4 linked regions of the Homo sapiens genome follow. The protein of the gene in region 1 purifies or fractionates together with the protein of each later gene. This does not show direct contact. Each region holds a gene or a part of one and is shown in the gene's direction. Other genes may lie near its edges.

What was found. Proteins that work in one complex are often made in the same cells at the same time.
Region 2: the proteins of ZBTB44 (region 1) and CILK1 purify together in Homo sapiens (affinity purification with mass spectrometry; one large-scale study listed by BioGRID and IntAct). This does not show direct contact.
Region 3: the proteins of ZBTB44 (region 1) and DDX49 purify together in Homo sapiens (affinity purification with mass spectrometry; one large-scale study listed by BioGRID and IntAct). This does not show direct contact.
Region 4: the proteins of ZBTB44 (region 1) and ESF1 purify together in Homo sapiens (affinity purification with mass spectrometry; one large-scale study listed by BioGRID and IntAct). This does not show direct contact.

The regions. Positions count from the first base shown.
Region 1 is NC_000011.10:130,231,418-130,236,887, reverse strand, and holds part of ZBTB44 (zinc finger and BTB domain-containing protein 44), read left to right. Parts: coding exon 1-95; intron 96-671; exon of another isoform or gene 672-778; intron 779-2,614; coding exon 2,615-2,732; coding exon of another isoform or gene 2,733-2,897; exon of another isoform or gene 2,898-3,505; coding exon 3,506-3,532; coding exon of another isoform or gene 3,533-3,579; 3' UTR 3,580-3,580; exon of another isoform or gene 3,581-5,172; 3' UTR 5,173-5,470. UniProt on the Homo sapiens protein: May be involved in transcriptional regulation.
Region 2 is NC_000006.12:53,054,233-53,059,092, reverse strand, and holds part of CILK1 (serine/threonine-protein kinase ICK), read left to right. Parts: intron 1-4,860.
Region 3 is NC_000019.10:18,925,655-18,930,222, forward strand, and holds the end of DDX49 (probable ATP-dependent RNA helicase DDX49), read left to right. Parts: intron 1-648; coding exon 649-723; intron 724-2,111; coding exon 2,112-2,200; intron 2,201-2,310; coding exon 2,311-2,382; intron 2,383-2,473; coding exon 2,474-2,662; 3' UTR 2,663-2,976; downstream 2,977-4,568. Other genes in the region: HOMER3 (homer protein homolog 3), read right to left, coding at 3,789-3,980. UniProt on the Homo sapiens protein: ATP-dependent RNA helicase that plays a role in various aspects of RNA metabolism including the regulation of mRNA export and the levels of pre-ribosomal RNA. Regulates the stability and synthesis of pre-ribosomal RNA and thereby regulates cell proliferation.
Region 4 is NC_000020.11:13,773,828-13,778,687, reverse strand, and holds part of ESF1 (ESF1 homolog), read left to right. Parts: intron 1-2,417; coding exon 2,418-2,815; intron 2,816-3,417; coding exon 3,418-3,531; intron 3,532-4,860. UniProt on the Homo sapiens protein: May constitute a novel regulatory system for basal transcription. Negatively regulates ABT1.

The DNA.
Region 1 (5,470 bases):
TGTGGCGCCATGTTCACCAACTCTGGAAATTTAATCGTGCACCTGAGGAGTCTGAACCATGAAGCATCAGAGCTAGCAAACTACTTCCAGAGCAGGTGAGGTGCACAACGAAAACCCAACCAGGAAAACTGCTTTCTAAACTCTCTTTTCCTGCTTTTAGGGCAGCCTTCTGTGTTTTTACATCAGGTTGCCAGCTAGTCAGTCACATTTGTTACGGATTCCCACTGTTCATACTCTAATCTCCTGATCTGATAAAATTTTGCTGAGTCTTCTACGTATATAAAATTATAAACATTTTATAGTTGGTATTAAAAATATTTTCCTGCAGAAGTAGACTACTTGTCCTCTTGAGATATTTTTTAAATAATACAAGGTTTAAGTAATTCTGTAATGGACCTTAAATAGATCTTACTGGAAATTTTACCATGTCAGATGATGCTTAGTGATACTGGATTACTCCAGACTCTAGATGTTAATAAAATTCTTTACCACTTCTCTCTATTTAAAAATATTCTATATAAAGGAATAGCCATTGGCCAGTAAGAAAAATTTCAAAGGCAACTATAGTGGGTGTGATGGTTTAGATCATGAAGTCATTGCTATTTTCATTCAGTTTAGAGCTCTATTCTTGTAATATTAATTTATAATAGAATTACCTTTCTGATTTATAGGGCATCCCAGGAAATCAGCTTCTAGATCTAGCTCTGCCACTAACTGCTGTTGATTAAACCTGTCACTTTACACATGAAAAAGCTTGAAACTTAGAGAAAGATAAAATGTAAGCTTTAAACGATGGTTTCTAAGGCCTTCTCTAGATATAAAACTGTTGTTTTAAATTGTTTATAAGAATTGTACTTCTGTAGGAATCCTTAGTTTCTCATAAAATGAAATTTTTACAAATCTTTCTTTTTTTTTTTTTTGAGATGGAGTCTCACTGTCACCCAGGCTGGAATGCAGTGGCACGATTTCGGCTTACTGCAACCTCAGCCTCCTGAGTAGCTGGGATTACAGGTGCCCACCACTACACCCAGCTAATATTTGTATTTTTAGTAGAGATGGGGTTTCACCATGTTGGCCAGTCTGATCTCGAACCCCTGACCTCAAGTGATCCGCCTGCTTCAGCCTCCCAAAGTGCTGTGGGATTACAGGCGTGAGCCACCATGCCCAGCCCAAATCTTTACATTTTAAATCACCCTTATTTTTAAAACCTTTTTTTTTTTTAATTGAATAGATAGGGTCTTGCAGTGTTGCCCAGGCTGAAGTGCAGTGGCTGTTCATAGACACAATCATAGTGCACTGCAGCCTCGAACTCCTGAGGTCAAGCAGTTCTCCTGCTGGGGCTACAAGTGTGGGCACCACCCCTGACTTAAAACCTTATTTGTAAACAAATTCCAAATTATTCCTGCGTAGATTTTGTTTTTCCCTTCAAACCAGACATTCATTTTGTTTAATGCAGTCATCTCTAATTCTGAATGTGTGGTTGCCATATCACTAAACCTTAGGTTATACATATCATATTAAACATAGTTTGTTCAGGACTAAAATAGTGTTCCTGTTAACTACTCATGTTATCTTTATCGTCCCTGTACAGAGCCCTGTATTCTCCATTCTTCTTCTCTAACACCTGAATGAAGACTTTTTAGAAAATATAACATAGGGCATTCTAAATTACTTTGCAGATGAACAGATTTTAATTTTTTATTAATACTGAACAATGAAATTATAAAATAACCTTATCAAGTCTAAGTACATATATTATTGACAATTATGGTATAATGAAGTTCTTAGTTCAGTAATAAAGATTTAAATAAAGCCTCTAAGATAAGACTTATTTCACATACTTAGTTTCAATTACCAAAAGATGCTTATAAGTAGGAAATTTAGGAAATACAGAAAAGTATGAAGAAGAAATTTAAAATATTTTCTATTTCATCACTTAAGGAAAGTAGCCACTGTTTTTAGTATATTTTACTGTCCATGTTGCCTGTGGGGACCAATAATTGAACACGTTTTGAGGATTATCACATAACCAATCTCAAGGCATTCATTTCCAAATTCTTTATTAGTATTTTCATATACCAAATGTAATAGCAGGATACACATAAATTACTTTCTACATTTCCCAACTTTATAGTAGATTATGTATCAGGTCATTTATGCATAAGGACTTAGTTTCTTAACTAACCTATGTCAAGTTTAGTAATACAAAGCTAGGTTTATATATCTCTTACTCAATGTATAATCAAGAAAAGTTTAGCATTAAAGTTACTCAGATGATCTTTGTTTAAGTGAGCATGCTACATTTGTTTTGTATATAGAAACTCCTCTACATAGAACAAGAAAGGCTGTTAAGGTGTCCAGAGTTATAATGAAAGTGATAATTAACCTGATGTATTGGTGGTGGGGAAGATTGATACATTTTGGTTTTAATGGATGTTTTGGTTCATATTTAGGAAAGTTTATAAGTTGAAAGTTCCTGAGTTTTAATCTTCACTGAACAATTAGTGAAATGAAGAGTCCCAATTTTGTTGTATAAATCAGAGCTTTTTACTGTTGCTTATCTATTACTGGTTTGAAAATTAATTCCATATTTCATCCTTTGCCTCTTATCTAGTGATTTCCTAGTACCGGACTACTTAAACCAGGAACAAGAAGAGACCCTTGTTCAATATGATCTTGGAGAACACGGTTTTGAAAGCAACTCCTCTGTTCAAATGCCTGTCATTTCACAGGTCTCCTCAACCCAGAATTGTGAAAGCACTTTTCCCTTGGGGTCTCTTGGTGGGCTGGCAGAAAAAGAGGAAGAAGTGCCAGAGCAGCCAAAGAGCAGTGCTTGTGCTGAGGCAACCAGAGATGACCCCCCAAAATCAGAGCTGTCTTCTATAACTATTGAGTAGTTTTGTGATTTGGCTTCAGTTTTGTTTTTTGGAAAGTGCCTGTGCTTGGTCTTGTACATTTAAATTTAATTTAATTTTTTAAACAAAAAAAGCCGGGTGGGAGGGAGGGGGAGATTGGGAAAGAATTTCCCTTTTTACTTTCTGAGCCCTGAAACTGATTTTATTTTTCCTAACTGAGAGATTGCTTCTGTAAGTACACAATAACATGATGTTGAAACAGAAACTATGAGACTTAAGGAGAACTGGTTGACTTAAAACATATACCAGTTCCTTCTTCCATTGTTAAAAGTAGGCTAACAACAGATCATTAGCTAGAGAGGAAATCAGATGATTATTGACCTTCTTGAGACAAGAGGGTACATGAGAAACTAATTACTAAACAGCTTGACAAATGGCCTGAGTAGATACTTACTGCTGTACACAGGATGTTGTATAATATTTTGTAAAGCCTGTTGTTTTTGGAAGTATTTATGGTAAGCTTTCTTAAAAATTATTATGGTAAATACTTCTGAAATCCGGCGTACTTTTCTTTAAGCTTTGTCATTTCTGTTATGATTTTTCATGGTGAAATTTTGGTACTGAGATGGGCATTCTCTGTACCTTTATAGTACCACTCCAAAGGCAAGGAACCATGATTGACAACAGTCAAGCTGTGGATGAAATGACCAGGAACGGAGAATGAAGTATGTAAATCCCAGCTTCATAGGAACTCTTCTCATACTGCTTTTCAGATTAAAATTGCTGTTTACCTGGTCTCCGAATGTAATGCCTGACTGTGTCATTGCCCGGATCAGTTTTCCCCCTGCCCCATCAATATGTTCTCTTGCATATATTGGCGTGCTGCCATATAAAGTAAAAATACTGGAGATATTCTATATTTTATATATAGGTTTATGTGTTGTTGGGGATGTTTTCATTGTGCTCTTTTGGACATAATAAATAATTCTCTATTGAGGCTACATTCTTTTTTTTTTTCTTTTTTTTTAAAAGAATGGCATCTCACTCTGTTGCCCAGGCTGGAGTATAGTGGCTAAGTCATAGCTCACTGCAGCTTCGAACTCCTGGGCTCAGGCCATTCTCCTGCCTCAGCCTCTTGAGTATCTAGGATTATAGGCATGCTCCACCACACCTGGTTAACTTCATTTTTATTTTTTGTAGAGATGAGGTCTCACTATGGTGCCCAGGCTGGTCTTGAACTCCTAGACCAAGTGATCCTCCTCCTTTGGCCTCCCAGACTGCTGGGATCACTGCACCGGCCAAGGCTGCATTCTTAACCCAACTAGATTGTTTACTGAATCCCATATGACAGCGATACATTGTCCTTACATATTTATTTTTAGACATTGCAAAGTTATTAAAAACAGTTAACTATAGTTTTTACACAACGTAGGCAACAATGAAGAGTATAGACTGTAAGATTTTCATCTATGACTCATAAATCTGGGAGAAAAAAATTATTAAGACTAATGAGAAACTGAAAACCTTAAACTAATGAATATTATTTCTGCTGCTAAAAATATGAAACTTTCTGGTCTGTAGTTGAAATTTGTATGATCCTCTAGACTTGGGTATACTTTTCATCTGGTGCCATTAAAGCATCTCTAATATTGATCCTAAATATTTGTAAGTCCATGAGCAGTGAACTTTGGAATAAGTTTCTGTGTAGATACCCAAAGTTTAATAATTATGAGAGCACCTGATTTGATAGACAGAAAATACAGTTCTTTAGTCAAAACACAAGATCTGAATTTTGTTCAGGTGCTAGACCATACTAAATGTATATATTTTTAATTATAGTGATTTGTTTCATTTTTTTAGATTGGCTAATTCTGTAATTTTTTCCCCAAAAACATGTGAAGAAAGGAAAAGTAAATTAAATTCCTTAGAACTGTTTTAGGTTAAGATTCTCTGTGTCTGCCCATATTCTGCAGTCCTTAACTTGTTTTCAACTCTTTACCTCACTCATGAACTTGTTTTTACCCATTTGCTGCCAAACATAGGTGTGTTCCCTTCAGGAGAATCAGCATATACAGGTTATGATAGGCTCCCACCATTTATGCTTCTTCACTGATAGGGTTGCATTACTTTCTGCAGCAGACTATAATACTTCATATAGTACTGCTGTGTCTCAACTGGAAAGGTCAGGAATTTTAATGTTACGTTGTGGTCTTTGAAAACTGTTAGGCCTAGCAATAGATAAATCTCAAAATTAATTTTAAAATCTGTATTGACAAGAATAGGTAAAATTATGACCAGGAATCATTGTTACCCTTAGTTCCAAGAGGTGGTTTTTGAAAGAGCAAGAGGAAAGAAAAAAGAAAAGAAGGAAAGAAGAATAAAGAAGAGAAACGTGTAAGAATGGTTTGCAGATTGATTGGTTAAAAGTGTTTTTAGCACATCCCCAACCCTGAAAACTTCGCATTAAGAGCCAAGCACAATGTTGGTAGCTCCAAGATATTCTGACTGTGTTCTCAGAATGAGGGATTACCCATCACTGGGTATTCCTTCCCAAGTAGAAACTTTAGATTTTCACTGGTAATACACATTGCCAAGTTTTATGGGAAATCTGAATA
Region 2 (4,860 bases), on another chromosome or scaffold:
CCTAGAGAACCAGGGTAACCATGCAGTGAATCCTTAGTAAGTATTATCCTGCCCTTACTTAAAATGGCTTGAGCTTAGGTTATTCCTGGCTGCAGCTCTGCTTCTGGGATCTGTTGCTGTTTTTCCATCTGAACCTTGCCAGGAACACTACTGCTTAATTTTTTTTTTTTATACTGCTCCTCTTGCAGCAGTCTCCTCCATTTCATTTTGTAGGATCTTGCAGAGTTGGAGTGGTACCTAGCCGTTCTATTGATGTCTGCCCTTATAAAATGCATTTTTCTGCTTGTGGGATCTATGTGAGTGTGTGTATTTGCCTGGTGGTTCCTTGGGAGAATTCTGGATATAATGACCTCTCTGTGTATGTTGATCTGAAAGCCTGTGAATAGTATCTCATTTAACTGTTGTCTTTCACCTGTGGTCTTTGATGACTGTGGCTTTCTGAGAAGGGCCTATGTTTAGAGTATTAGAACTCTCCTATCTGTGAACCTCAGTGTTTATGGTTGATGTGGTTGAATCAGGGAGAATGCGCAAACAGAGGTGTGTGTGTGCCGGATGACTTATACACGTTTTGGGATTACAGTGTAATTGTGTCTTAGTTTGTGGTTGTGCTTACCTTTGAAATACAGTTTTAACTTCCTTATAAAAGCACATGTGTTCTAGAAAATTACCTAGTAAAAAGAATTTGGTGAAACAAATCATTTTCTGGGGCAAATTGCATTAAAATGCTAAGGAAATGTTGTGGCAGGAAGAAAATCAGAGATGCCTTTGATTGCAGCCAAAGAAGTAAAAGCAGCAGCTCAGGCCTACCTCAAGGTGGTAACCAAGGTTGATATGGGCATCTTCATTCAATCTGTCTGCTCCTAGTTAACTGCTGTCCAATATTAGGAAAAACTACTACTCAACAGGTTTTAGGGAAACACTCAACCCAAACAGAAGGCTTCTATTCCTGATTTTCTTCCAAGGAAACTGAACTATCTTTGCACATTAAGTACCTGACTCTCTGTGCTTTGAAAGTTGAAGTCTTCCTGGGTAGGAAGAGTGTCTTGTCGTGGGACTTACCTGAGCAGGCTGAAATCAAATCCAACATATGTTGACATGTGAAGTCATGTTTGAGTTTGAGGATAGCACATCTTCAAACATCTGCTCCCCCCTTTTTTTAAACTATATGGGCTCAGGATTAGCAAAATATTCATATGCTTTTTACCAAGGAGCACGTGGGGAACATTTGATACATCTTTAGTTGGCTATAAAACATGTATTATACTCACACATTTCAAAATATTCTACTCTGAAGATAGCAAGTATTCTGTTCTTCTTAGTTGGATCTCATCTGTAGAGTGAGAATGTCAAGTGATCATTAAGGTCCTTTACAGAAAAAAAAAATTCTTAACTCTATTGTCTGAAGTTTGTTCAACATTAGGCTTTGAACATAGTTCCTAATGAATTTAGCATTCAAATCTATGTTAATTAGCATTCAGTTATATTTTATCTTTAAATAAGCTCATCATGGCTGCTATAAAAGATAATGCCTCTGAACCAAAAGATAAAGTATTATAAGTGTGATGTCCAACTATATTTGACAATATCATGAAAGTAACTATCTGCGTGAACTTGTAGTTCCTAGCAGATGATTGTCATCCTAACTCACTTTTTTTGAAATGAAAGGGCCACAATAGTGCCTTGCTTTTCATTTGGTGCTTTTCCCACCATGTCAAGAACCCTTAGTAGCCACTTAATAAATGTATAACGATGGCCCAGAGCTTATGAGAACCACACGTTTTTTTAGGAGAGATCAGTGTGAGTTATTTTTTACCTTTCTATAGGTGAAGCATGACCTGTGATAAAGTATTGATAACATGTGACTGCTCTTTTGACTACCATAAAAGATAATGCCTGAGAACCGGAAAGGAAAGTACTATTGTATAATGCCCAAATACGTATTTGGCAATATCATGAAAGTTACTATCTGCATGAACTTGTGGTTCCCAAAAGATAGTTATTAATGGTTTTGCCCTCTTGGACATTGCCTTTGCTTTGAAAGAGAATTTACTAGAGAATGATTTAACTAAGACAAAGGGGAGTAAGAAAAATGTAAGATATACATGCCTTCATGTGATCTTAGCTGTTGAAAAGCAAGTTTTTTCCTAAATTAGTGTAAAAGTTTTTAGAAGGAGTCATAATTTTGGTACCCTAGTCCCAGTACAGTTGTCCAGTTTGCAAAGAAGTGGGGCGTGACGGGATGACAGTGAGGGTGGACGTGGTAGTATAGGAAAATCATCTATGGTCAGGATTGCCTTTTAAAGCTCCATAAGTTGTTCATTCATTAGTTAATTCATTGAACATGTCTTTATTGTGAGTCCGTACTTGTGCCAACTATGCCAGTTCTCTGGGAACTGAGTACTGGGAATACAGTTGTGAATATTGCAACGTTTCTGACCTCACAGAGCTTATATTCTAAGGTTAAACACAGCTTGTATGTAGCCCTGTAACCTAGGGGTAAGTGAGGGCTCTATGGAGAGTACTAAAGTGCTTCTGCTTATTTGGGGGATTTCCTCATCTTCAGGGCTTGACAAACTATGGCTTGTGTGCCAGTCCTTCCTGCTGCCTGTTTTTGTAAATAAATTTGTACTGGAACACAGCCATGCCCATGTATTTACATATTGTCTTTGACTGCTTTCATGCTACAATGGCAGAGTGGAGTTGTGACGGAGATGGAGAGCCTGCAAAGCCTATCCTGTTTACTGACCCTTCACAGAAAAAACGTGCTTATCCCTGCCCTATTTTATTTTTACATTAAGCCTTTACTTCCTTTAATTCATTTTGATTTTTTGTATACATGCTAGCAAAGCATCTTACACTGAGATCAGCTCCTTAGTCAAATGTGTTGTAATAGCATATAAATACTGATAACATGTGGCTGTCCTTGTAACTACCGTAAAAGATAATGCGTTAGAACCAGAAAGGTAAAGTATTATTGTGTAACGTCCAGCTACTTATTTGCCAGTATCATGAAAGTTACTATCTACATGAACTTGTGATATGCTCTTAGTCACTCCCCTATCTTCACTATCCCTTATCTTGCCCACCCCTGAAACACAGGCAAGCAGGACTATTGCCACCCTCGGCAGTTTTCATTAAGCTGGGGACTCTCGTTCTAGCTCATCTACAGTTTCACACATGGCAGGGTAAAGGTTTGTTTTTCTGGCTGTTTTTTTATTTTTTATTTTTTTTAACATTTCGCCTTTACTTCAGTTCTTTACAGTCCACCAAAGCCAACTATGTGTCCTAGTTTAAAAATCATCTGCAAGTGATTGAAGAACTTTTTTAAGGTTCAAGGCGTGAGCACCTTTTATATTGTAAGAGAAGCGACAGGGAGTTATGGAAGCTTCTCATGGGATTAAGGACCTAGTGCAGGACGAGTTCTTTTTTCAGAAGCTGGGATTGAAAGAGGAGAGGGATGGTAAAGGTATGAAGAAGTTTCTGGGGCACAGAAGAAGGCACATCATGTAACGGATTATCTTCTCTTGTTAACATCCAGTTGATGCAATAGCTGAATGCATCTTTAATTCACTCCTCTGTCAAGGTAAAGACAAAGCAAGATCCATGTAAAGAAGGTCCTTTTGGCTTTGTAACTGCTATTCCTTATGCAGAAAAAAAGCAGTAGTCCAAGAGGCAAAATGCTTAAAAGGTTTGCTTGCTAAAATGTACAGAGGCAGAAGAATTAGGTCCAGGAGAAAAACATAAACCCGGATATACTATTTCTAGTACCTTTTTAAAAGAAATTAACAGTATTCACTGACTTTTGTAAAGTTAGGACACATTCAAACCTAGAATACGAAGTCTAATTATAAACCTGTAAAGGTAAAATGGAACTCAGAATTACCATGAGAAGGGTCATCTAATGATTTTGCATATAATCCACTTTTCCTAGGAGGATAAATGAAAGTAACAGAATCTTTTCAATGTAAGATAATTAATGCAAAGGGAGACAAGCTCCTTCTAAGGAACTGAATGGTGTCAGTGGGCCTGGTAAACCACAACTCCCAGAGAACCCCAAGTTTGCTGTAACTTTTTGTCTCCTGTCTTAGAAAATGTGTAATGATGGCATTAATTCATTGATTAAGGTTTCAAAATAAAGAATGAACTACAATTTTCCCTGCCCCTCGCCTCCATTTTTTAGGCTGTGAATGAGCAAGGCACCTGATGTGAGCTGCTGGCCATGAGCAAATGTTCTTTGCCTCCACCGAGGATTGACGCTGAGGGGAGGGAATTGGGGCAAATCACAGGAAGCTTTTCCCCAATGTCACCTAGCCAGGAACATCATAACATTGACTTCAAAGGTTTGCTGGAACTCTTTGAAAGAGAGATAAAGCTGTCTTTCTTTGGTAGTTGAGTACAGCCTTACCCAAAGGCCAAAGGCCTGATCTGACCGCATGGAGGGGGACTTTCTGTGATCCTCTGAGACTCAGTCATCTTGGCATTGTTGTGGGAGGGCCCAGGCTGCCTGCCTGCCCCAGCTATTCTGTGGTATTCACTGTTCTTCCACTTCAGAACTTCAGAACTTTTAGTTGGGCCCAACAGTTTATCTTTGTTTTGTGTATGACAAAATAGAAGCACTGAGAATTTTGAGGTACTTAGCCAAGGTGGTACAGAAAATAATAGCAAAGACTAAAACTCACATTTGGGCCCTTCAAACAATCTTTGAGGACTTGCTACTGCAAGTGGAGTGAGAAGACAAAGATGAAGCAGTCTTGGAGAGTGTCGAGGCTGAAGCAGAGGGTACACCTGCAGGTCATTGCCACGGGGAAGGGGCTGGCAGTGAGGTGAGGACAAGGCACTATGGCATCAAGGGAGAGGACC
Region 3 (4,568 bases), on another chromosome or scaffold:
AGCAGTGTGGGGCTGCCCCCTGGGAGGGTGCACACACAGCTCCGGCCCCCACTACTTGCTGCTGCCTCGTCAGGGAGGGGCATGGTGTCCATGAGATGCTGTCAGTTCTGAAGCCAGGAAAGATGTGGTTGCTGGGGTCGGACTGGGCCTGGACCTTCTATCCTGACCCTGTGGTGCTGGGCAGGTCACTTCCACTCCCTAGACCTCACATGGTGGATAATGAGAATGGTGACGTCCTCGTGGGGCTGCCATGAGGGTCACGGACCTTGTCCACCATCAGTGCAGTTTCGGCCCTAGTCAACGTCACAGAAAACAGCAAGCAGAGATCTTGGGCTGAGGCCCGTCAGGGCTAATGGCTGGCATTACTTAGACTGGGTTCCCTGGCAGCCAAGCCAAAAAGGGAAATCGGGCAGTAACTAACTGCTGTGTAAGGCCAGACTGGCAGACCTGCCTCTCCCCAGCGACCCGTCCTCCACACAGTGGTCCTGCTTGGGGTCAAGCCCAGACACTCTGGGCTGATCCCTCCCAAGCCCAAGCCCTTGTTCAGCATCTCCAGGACCCCTGAGCTGTGTAGCTGTCAGGATCTACCTTTATTCGCCCCATGTCCTGACGCCCAGCACATAGCAGATAACCGGCACATCCCCACAGGGCGGCAGGGTCAGGCCATCACGCTGGTGACACAGTACGACATCCACCTGGTGCACGCCATCGAGGAGCAGATCAGTGAGTGGGGTTGGGGTGGGTGGTAGAGAAGGAGGGGTGGGGTGGGCAGAGGTGGGCACCTCGGGGTGAGACCCATTTTCCCGTCAGACACCAGCCGGCCTGCTCCCGTGAGCAGATTTAGGCTGGGGCTTCCTTCCCTAGGCACCCCCAAAAGAAGTTCTTTTGCCCATTTATTGAAACAAACTCCCCATAGTTGTCGCCAGCAGCTGAAAGCCACATCAGTCAGGAGGGGACTTGGGTTTCTTAGACTGAGATGTATGGAAGGTCCCTGAGATGTCAGAGGCCCCATTGACAGGGCCTGGCCTGCTAAAAACCCCTGGGAATGGTTTCATATGCAGCCAAGACAGAGACACTTCCTAAGGTATCTCTGATCACTGCATAGACTGTCCTGAAATTTAGAAACATCTGGACTTGGCCAGGCACAGTGGCTCACACTTGTAATCCTAGCACTTTGAGAGGCCGAGGTGGGCGGATCACTTGAGCCCAGGAGTTCAAGACCAACCTGGGCAACATGGTGAAACCCCGTCTCTACTAAAAATACAAAAATTAGCCAGGTGTGGTGGCGCACGCCTGTAATTGCAGCTACTTGGGAGGGTGAGGCATGAGAATTACTTGAACCCGGGAGGCAAAGGTTGCAGTGAGCCAAGGTCGCGCCATTACGCTCCAGCCTGGGTGACAGTGAGACTCTGTCTCAAAAAAAAAAAAAAAAAAAAAAAGAGAAACATCTGGACTTTAAGGCCGGGCACGGTGGCTCACACCTGTAATCCCAGCACTTTGGGAGGCCAAGGTGGGTGGATCACTTGAGCCCAGGAGTTTGAGATCAGCCTGGGCAATGTGGAGAAACCCTGCCTCTCCAAAAAATATAGAAACTAGCAGCACACGCCCGTAGTTCCAACTACTCAAGAGGCTGAGGTTGGAAGATTGCTTGAGCGGAGGCTACAGTGACCTGATTGAGCCACCACGCTCCAGCATGGGCGACAGAGTAAGACCCTGTCTTCAAAAAAAAAGAAAGAAATATCTGGACTTTAAAGGACACTGTTTGCAAGAAATTAATATTCATGGTTAAACTCATAATGCTGCTAACACCGAAAAAAAATGGCGGGGGGAGGCTGAGGCATGAGAATTACTTGAACCCGGGAGGCGGATGTTGCAGTGAGCCGAGATAGTGCCACTGCACTCCAGCTTGGGTGACCGTGAGACTCTGAAAGACAGCGGTCCATACCTTCCTTACCTCAGAAATCCCTGATCTTGCTCAGCTGACCCTTACCTGATATGGCCCCAGATGGCCTTGCATACCCCACAGCATGGGGAACTCACTACTTGGCTGAACTCCCTCTCCATGTCACGTCTCCTCCCCACCCCCACCCCCGGCTTTGCTGTCCCCACAGAGAAGAAGCTGGAGGAGTTCTCCGTGGAAGAGGCCGAGGTGCTACAGATCCTCACACAGGTCAACGTGGTGCGAAGAGAGTGTGAGATCGTGAGTGTCAGAGGCGGGCAGGAACTAAAGTGCTCTCCAGGGCCGGGGGTGCTCCCTTCCAGGTGGGGCCCCCGTGACCAGCATCTCCTTACCCCACTTCCCTCCACCAGAAACTGGAGGCGGCCCACTTTGACGAAAAGAAGGAGATCAACAAACGGAAGCAGCTGATCCTGGAGGGGAAGGTGAGGGCCGAGCCCGCAGGTAGGGGGTGGGTGGCCAGGTTCCCTGGCGGGGGCCGCCAGCTCAGCCATCCCCTGGTCCTCCCTGTGCCAGGACCCTGACCTGGAGGCCAAGCGCAAGGCTGAGCTGGCCAAGATCAAGCAGAAGAACCGGCGCTTCAAGGAGAAGGTGGAGGAGACGCTGAAGCGACAGAAGGCTGGCAGGGCTGGCCACAAGGGGCGTCCACCCAGGACACCGTCTGGGTCCCACTCAGGCCCAGTCCCCTCCCAGGGCCTGGTCTGAGCCCCACACGGCCATCTGCCCAGTCCTTGACTCGTCCATGGAGCTGAGGGTCGGAGGAACCTTCCTTGGGGGCAGCAGCCCTTCCCGGGGGCCTACCCAGTGCCCCACAGCAGAACCCGTGGGCGCTCGTGTTGTGCGGGCCCTGCTCCTCTGCCCCGAAACCACTGGCTGGTCCCTTCCCTGAGCCCTGGCCAAGATTCAGGCTGCAGGGGAAGAAAGAACATGACCGGGAGGTTGTGACCCCAACCCAAGGTCACCCCCCAGGGGTGCCGCATACAGGAGGTGCTTAATAAACGGGTCTTTTGACTTCCTCAGTCTGACTTTCGAAGAGCAGGGGGACAGGAGAGGTGGGGTGCAGCCGCTGTTGTTTCTCAGGTGTCTGCCCAGAACACCATGTCCATTTCCACCAGGCAGGCCCAAAGTTTTGCAGACACCAGCTGCTCGAATGGCCATGGGATTTTGGGCCCTGAAGCCCCTTCTCTGGGCTTCCAGTTTCCTCATCTGGAGAATGGGCATAGCAACTGCCCTGCTCTCCAGAGGCAGCTGTGAGGCTTTGGTGAGGTCAGTCCTGTGCCGAATGGGTGCAGCTATAAGCTTCCCTGGCCACCCACCTGGCCACATCTGGGGTTTGTGGCCAGAGTGAAGGGGCCATGAAAGTCCAAATTTGGCCAGACAATGTGGGCTAAGCCCAAGGGGACAGGCAGAGAGACACCAGAGCCAGCTTCCTGGCTGTGTGGCCTGGACCCCCCTCGGACTCCAAGCCTCACCCCTCATCTGCAAGCGGCTTATAACTGCTACATGGATTCAGGGGCACCCAAAAAGACGCAGGGAAAGGCGCCGGCGACATGTTAAGTGCCCAGATACCCACATACCACACACACACAGCCACGCTTAGAAATGTAATCGGGGGATCTAGAAATTCTACACAATGAGAAGCTCAAAAACAGCCCCAAAGCTGCCAACAACCAGAGCCGACTGGGGCCCACCCCAGCCCAGCCCGGCCCGGCCCACCCAGGGCTAAGTTGGGACCCCCCAGTCCCTTTCCAGGACGAATGGGCCCAACTATGCCGCCTGCAGCCTGGCCCGCATCCCAGGCCGGAATCGTTCATAGAAAACCAGCCCCGGCTCAGGGCGCAGCCTCAGCCAGGCGGGCCAGGCCCTCACGCAGCTCACTCAGCTCAAACAGGCTGACGTCCAGCAGCTGCGCTGCCCGGCCCACCTCAGCCCGCGCCCGCTCCCGCTCTGCCCGTGCCTCCTCCAGGCTGCGCTCCATCGCCCGCAGCTGGTGCTCCAACTCCGCATTGCGGGTCTCCAGGTCCTGCCAGGAAAGGGTGGGCAGGGTTGGGGGCCCCAACAAATCACCAGTCCTGCCCGAGGCATCCAGAGTCTGACCACCTTCATGTCCCTCTTCTGCCCAGAGCCATCCTAGGGCGCCCAACACACCAGGAATAAAATGCACACCCCACAGGGGCCTAGCTTCTGCCCTCATTTCTTTTGTTTGTTTGTTTGTTTTTGAGAAGGAGTTTCGCTCTTGTCGCCCAGGCTGGAGTGCAATGGCGTGATCTCGGCTCACTACAACCTCCGCCTCCCAGGTTCAAGCAATTCTCCTGCCTCAGCCTCCCAAGTAGCTGGGATTACAGGCATACACCACCACGCCCAGTGATGGCTTACACCTGTAATCCCAGAACTTTGGGAGGCGGAGGCAGGTGGATCCCCTGAGGTCAGGAGTTCAAGACCAGCTTGGCCAACATGGTAAAACTCCATCTCTACTAAAAATACAAAAATTAGCTGGGCATGGTGGTGCACACCTGTAGTCCCAGCTACTCTGGAGGCTGAGGCAGGAGAATCGCTTGAGCTCAGAAGGCGGAGCTTGCAGTGAGCCGAGATCGCGCCACTGCACTCCAGC
Region 4 (4,860 bases), on another chromosome or scaffold:
AGTCTCTTATGCAACACTTTATTATTATATAACCCAAAGTGTGGTATGTGTACCATTGTCATAAGTGAGAAGATTTTTGATGATACTCAAACTTCTAAAATATTAATAGTTATGTACTGTGTCAACATCTTAGAAAACAATGTAATTACCCTATCACTTCTGTGACTTTAGGAATATTGTTTAGAGCAAAACTAACTTTTAAAAAATTCAATTTAATAAAAAAATGATATTCAAAAATCATGAAAATGGTATAATGACTGACAGTTGAGAAATATTGCAATACTAGATAGACTGGGTCTGTAAGATGTTATTTCTAAGCTTGTTGCTTAAAAGTAAATTCTGCTTACCTCATAGTAACTTTCAATGTTGTGTTTTTCAGATCTCATATATAGAACCTGTGACAATGCTTTCATTTTGGCGCTTTTCACTTCTATTGGCTAGTTATTTTTATTAATCCCTGCTTCGTTGTGGTGGTAACATAAAAGCCCATTTCCTGCTTTTCCTTCTAACAAGATGCCTTTTCATTCAGTTAGTCTCAAGTCAAGTTGTATCTTTGTGAAGCCTTTTTATAAATACCTCTCTGCAGGCAAATTTAGATGTCTCTCACTGTATGGTGATTGAGAACATAGATTTATAAATCAGTAAATGGTTACCTTTTATTTATGAATCCATCAAGAGCATGAGATCGTGTTACAAATCTTCTCTCTTTTCCCTTATCCTAGCTCAATTCTTTGTATGTAGTAGATACTCAGTAAATATTTGGTCAGTGAATAACTATTATAAGATTATAGGACCAAGAGAAAATTAGTTCCAATTTCATTCTAAATCTTGAACTTTTAAATTTGCTTTTAATTTTCCAAACTTAGAGCCTGTAAGCAGAAAATAAGCTCCAACTTAAAGATGAGTAAAACACGTAAGATATATCTACACACCAAGTAGATAGAAGCCTGTGATTGCTTTAGAAGTAGGAAATGAGCCCTTTCAGAGTTGTGAGGACTAAAATTTCCATCTTAAGCAAAAACAGTCTTTCAATCTTGGTGTATTGCTAATCATGACAGTTGATTACAAAGTTCAAGACCTGGCAGAAAAAGTATAAATATTATTTCTCTGTCTTTATAGGTGATCTCATCCACATCACAGCTTCTGTTGTCAACTGCGTATGAATGAGTCACTGATCTCCAACCCAGACTTCTCTGAGCTGTACACTCTTATTATTGATACTTTCTTTTAGATGACTGAGTGGCACTTCGTATTCAACATATTCAAAACTGAACTCATGATTTCCCTCCACCAAACAAACTAGTTCATTTCCAGTGTTCCCTTTTCATCTTTCCATCTTCTTAGCTAACTAGCTCTGAAAGCTAAGAAGCTATGACTCATCTTTGACACTTCCAAAACTCCCAGTCCCCGTGTCAAATCTCCAGTCGGTAATTATTGGTTTCACTTCCTGACTGACTCTGAAATCCATGTACATCTCTGCATACATACTGCCACCCAACTTAGTGCTACCTTCATTTCTTGCTTTTTGTACTGTACTACCTTTACTATATTCACATCTGTTCTTTACTTTCCCAAGTCAGTTTTCTACAGTATAGTCAAGGTGATCTCCTCAATATGCAAGTCTGAGGATGACAATATCCAAAAGAAGATGACATCCTCTTTTTTGAAAACAGCAGTGTCTTCCCATTGCTTTTATGAAAAAGTCCAAGCTCTCTATATGGTTTTTTGATAGCTTGGCCTCTACTTAACTCTTCATTTCCATTTGTTACTTGATTCTGTGCTATCTGTGATCTGGACATGATGGTTGGCTTTTTCCTATTGGCAGATTTTTACAGGTACCTTCCTTGCTCTTTCAAACAAATTTCCATCTATTAGTCTAACTTTGACTATTTAACTCCTGTTCATCCTTCAAGTAACAGCTCAGTTATCACTCACTTAGGGACCCCATTAAATCCCCTTAGAAAACATTCTTTCTGGGATATCTTAGTTGTGATTTTAACTTTTCCTATATATTGATTTTATTTGATATCCATGTATTCTTTTCACTCAGCTAGAAGTTTCACTGAGAGCACTGTTTGCTTCTCTTTTACCAACTGTTGTATATTGAGCACTTAGCACGTAGCAGGCACACTGTTAAGTATTGAATGAATGTCTGGATCTACTTGCGTGATGTGAGCATGTGTTAGGATTTCCATTAAATAACTTGGTTAAGTGTATTTTCCTTTACTCTGTTTCATAGAAGTTATGGTTAGGATTTCTATCATAAAAATTGACTAAGCATTTACTGAATATATATTTGTCTTTACTGTGTTTCATAGAAATTATATTTTTACTGGAGTTGATGTCAAGATAATTTGGATTCAGTTTAATTCAGCATATATCTTTTCTTAATTTCTTTCCCCTTTAACATTTTGCAGTGGTTCAACTCATAATGACAAGAGACAGTGATGGTTATGAAAACTCAACAGATGGTGAAATGTGTGACAAAGATGCTCTGGAGGAAGATTCAGAAAGCGTTAGTGAAATAGGAAGTGATGAGGAATCTGAAAATGAAATTACAAGTGTTGGTAGAGCTTCAGGTGATGACGATGGAAGTGAAGATGATGAAGAGGAGGATGAAGATGAAGAGGAGGATGAAGATGAGGATAGTGAGGATGATGATAAAAGTGACAGTGGCCCTGATCTTGCAAGGGGTAAAGGAAATATAGAAACTAGTTCTGAAGATGAAGATGATACGGCAGATTTGTTTCCAGAAGAATCTGGTTTTGAGCATGCTTGGAGAGAATTAGATAAAGATGCTCCTCGTGCTGATGAGGTAACCTTTTGAATAAACAAGATTATTTGTGAAAAACACAGTACAAGCAGCTTTTATGGCTGGTAGAACTGATGTCATTAAGTGGGAAAAGCTTATTGGTAATAGTATTCTTTATGATTCTGATTAAAATTTGATATGGAATATAATTATATGAACTAGAAGACGTCCAAGCAGATAAGAAGAGGCTCTACATAAATAATTAAAAGTTGCATGAAATTTTTAATACTTGTTTTAGCTAGTAGTTTGTATTTCTGTTTGTACGGCACCCAAAAGAAATGTTGCAGGGTAACATACTCAACTTCCTTACTCATGCATGCATGGCAAAATAGCTGAACAAACTTGGTGGTTAAAAAATCAGCTCATGATCATGTTCTGATTTAAGAATTAAGAACCAAGTAAGAGAAAGTACTTACCTGTTATGGTTTTACTATTGTTTGGCTCATTTGAAGTTCTCTTTTATATACTGAATTACGCTTAGATAACTCCTGTACTATTAATTTCAGAGCATAGGGGACAGAAGGCATTACATTTTTAGAATCTTTATTTTTCAAGTATTGAGAATGATATGGATTATGTACTATTTAATTCTTCTCATTTCTCAGATTACACGTCGATTAGCAGTTTGTAACATGGACTGGGATAGATTAAAGGCAAAAGATTTGCTGGCTCTGTTCAATTCATTTAAACCCAAAGGAGGTGTAATATTTTCCGTCAAGGTGAGAATTGATTTCATTTTGAAATAAATATTTCTAGGCATTTTAAGTTAAATCTGATTTTTTTTTTTTTTTTTGGCCATAGTTTTCCTTTTTAGGAAAATACTGTGGAAGTTGTCCAATCCAATTGAGTGTGAAACTTATGTAACAGGTATAAATGTTAGAAAGGAAGAGGTGAAATTATTATTATTGATAGGTTATATGATTGTTTACACATTAAAAATCCAAAGAAATAAAAGCTCAGTAAAGGGACAGCATATAAGAAGTGTTTTTAACAATAAATTGCATTCCTTATTGCTAACACTGGCCAATTAAGGAAAAAATCTAATTATACTAGAAACAAAACCACATAAAGTTCTTGGAAATTACCTTAATAAACACAAATGACCTATGTGAAGTAAACTGTAACACTTGATAAATTTGAAAAACTTACATAAATTTTGAGGATACCATATTTCAAGCCAACCTAATAATTAAGAATCCAGGCTTTGCATTATTGCAGACCTGGGTTCAAATCTTGATTCTCGTAAGTGTTATGTGATCCTGGACACTTAATTAATCTCTCAAGTATGTTTACATCTTTCCAATATATCCAAATGGATATAACAATAGTATTGGTGATTGTAAGGATTAAGTATAAAGGAGCTTGAACTAAGTATTTAGTGCAGTGCCTGAAATAGCCCTGCCCTCAATCATTATTAGAGATTGAGTCTCCCTTATCCAAAATGCTTGGGATCAGAAGTGTTTAGAATTTCAGATTTTGAAATAAAATTGCATTATATATACTTACTGGATGAGCATCGCAATTCCAAAATCTGAAATGCGCCAATGAGCGTTTCCTTTGAACCTCACGTTGACAGTCAAAAAGTTTGGAATTTTGGATTTGGGATTTGGGATGCTCAACCTGTATTATTCTGTTTAAATATTTAAAGATGTTATGTCTACTGTTCTAGGGTAATTTTGATCAAAATCCCAGTTCAAGTCAAAGTTAAGAAAAAGGATACCAATAATCATCTAAAAGAATAAACAAATTAAGAGTAGCTAATAAACTATTTTTTTTTTTTTGAGATGGAGTCTCGCTCTGTCGCCCAGGCTGGAGTGCAGTGGCGCAATCTCGGCTCACTGCAAGCTCCGCCTCCCGGGTTCACGCCATTCTCCTGCCTCAGCCTCCTGAGTAGCTGGGACTACAGGCGCCCACCACCACGCCCGGCTAATTTTTTGTATTTTTAGTAGAGACGGGTTTTCACTGTGTTAGCCAGGATGGTCTCGATCTCCTGACCTCATGATCCGCCCGCCTCGGCCTCCCAAAGTGCTGGGATTACAGGTGTGAGC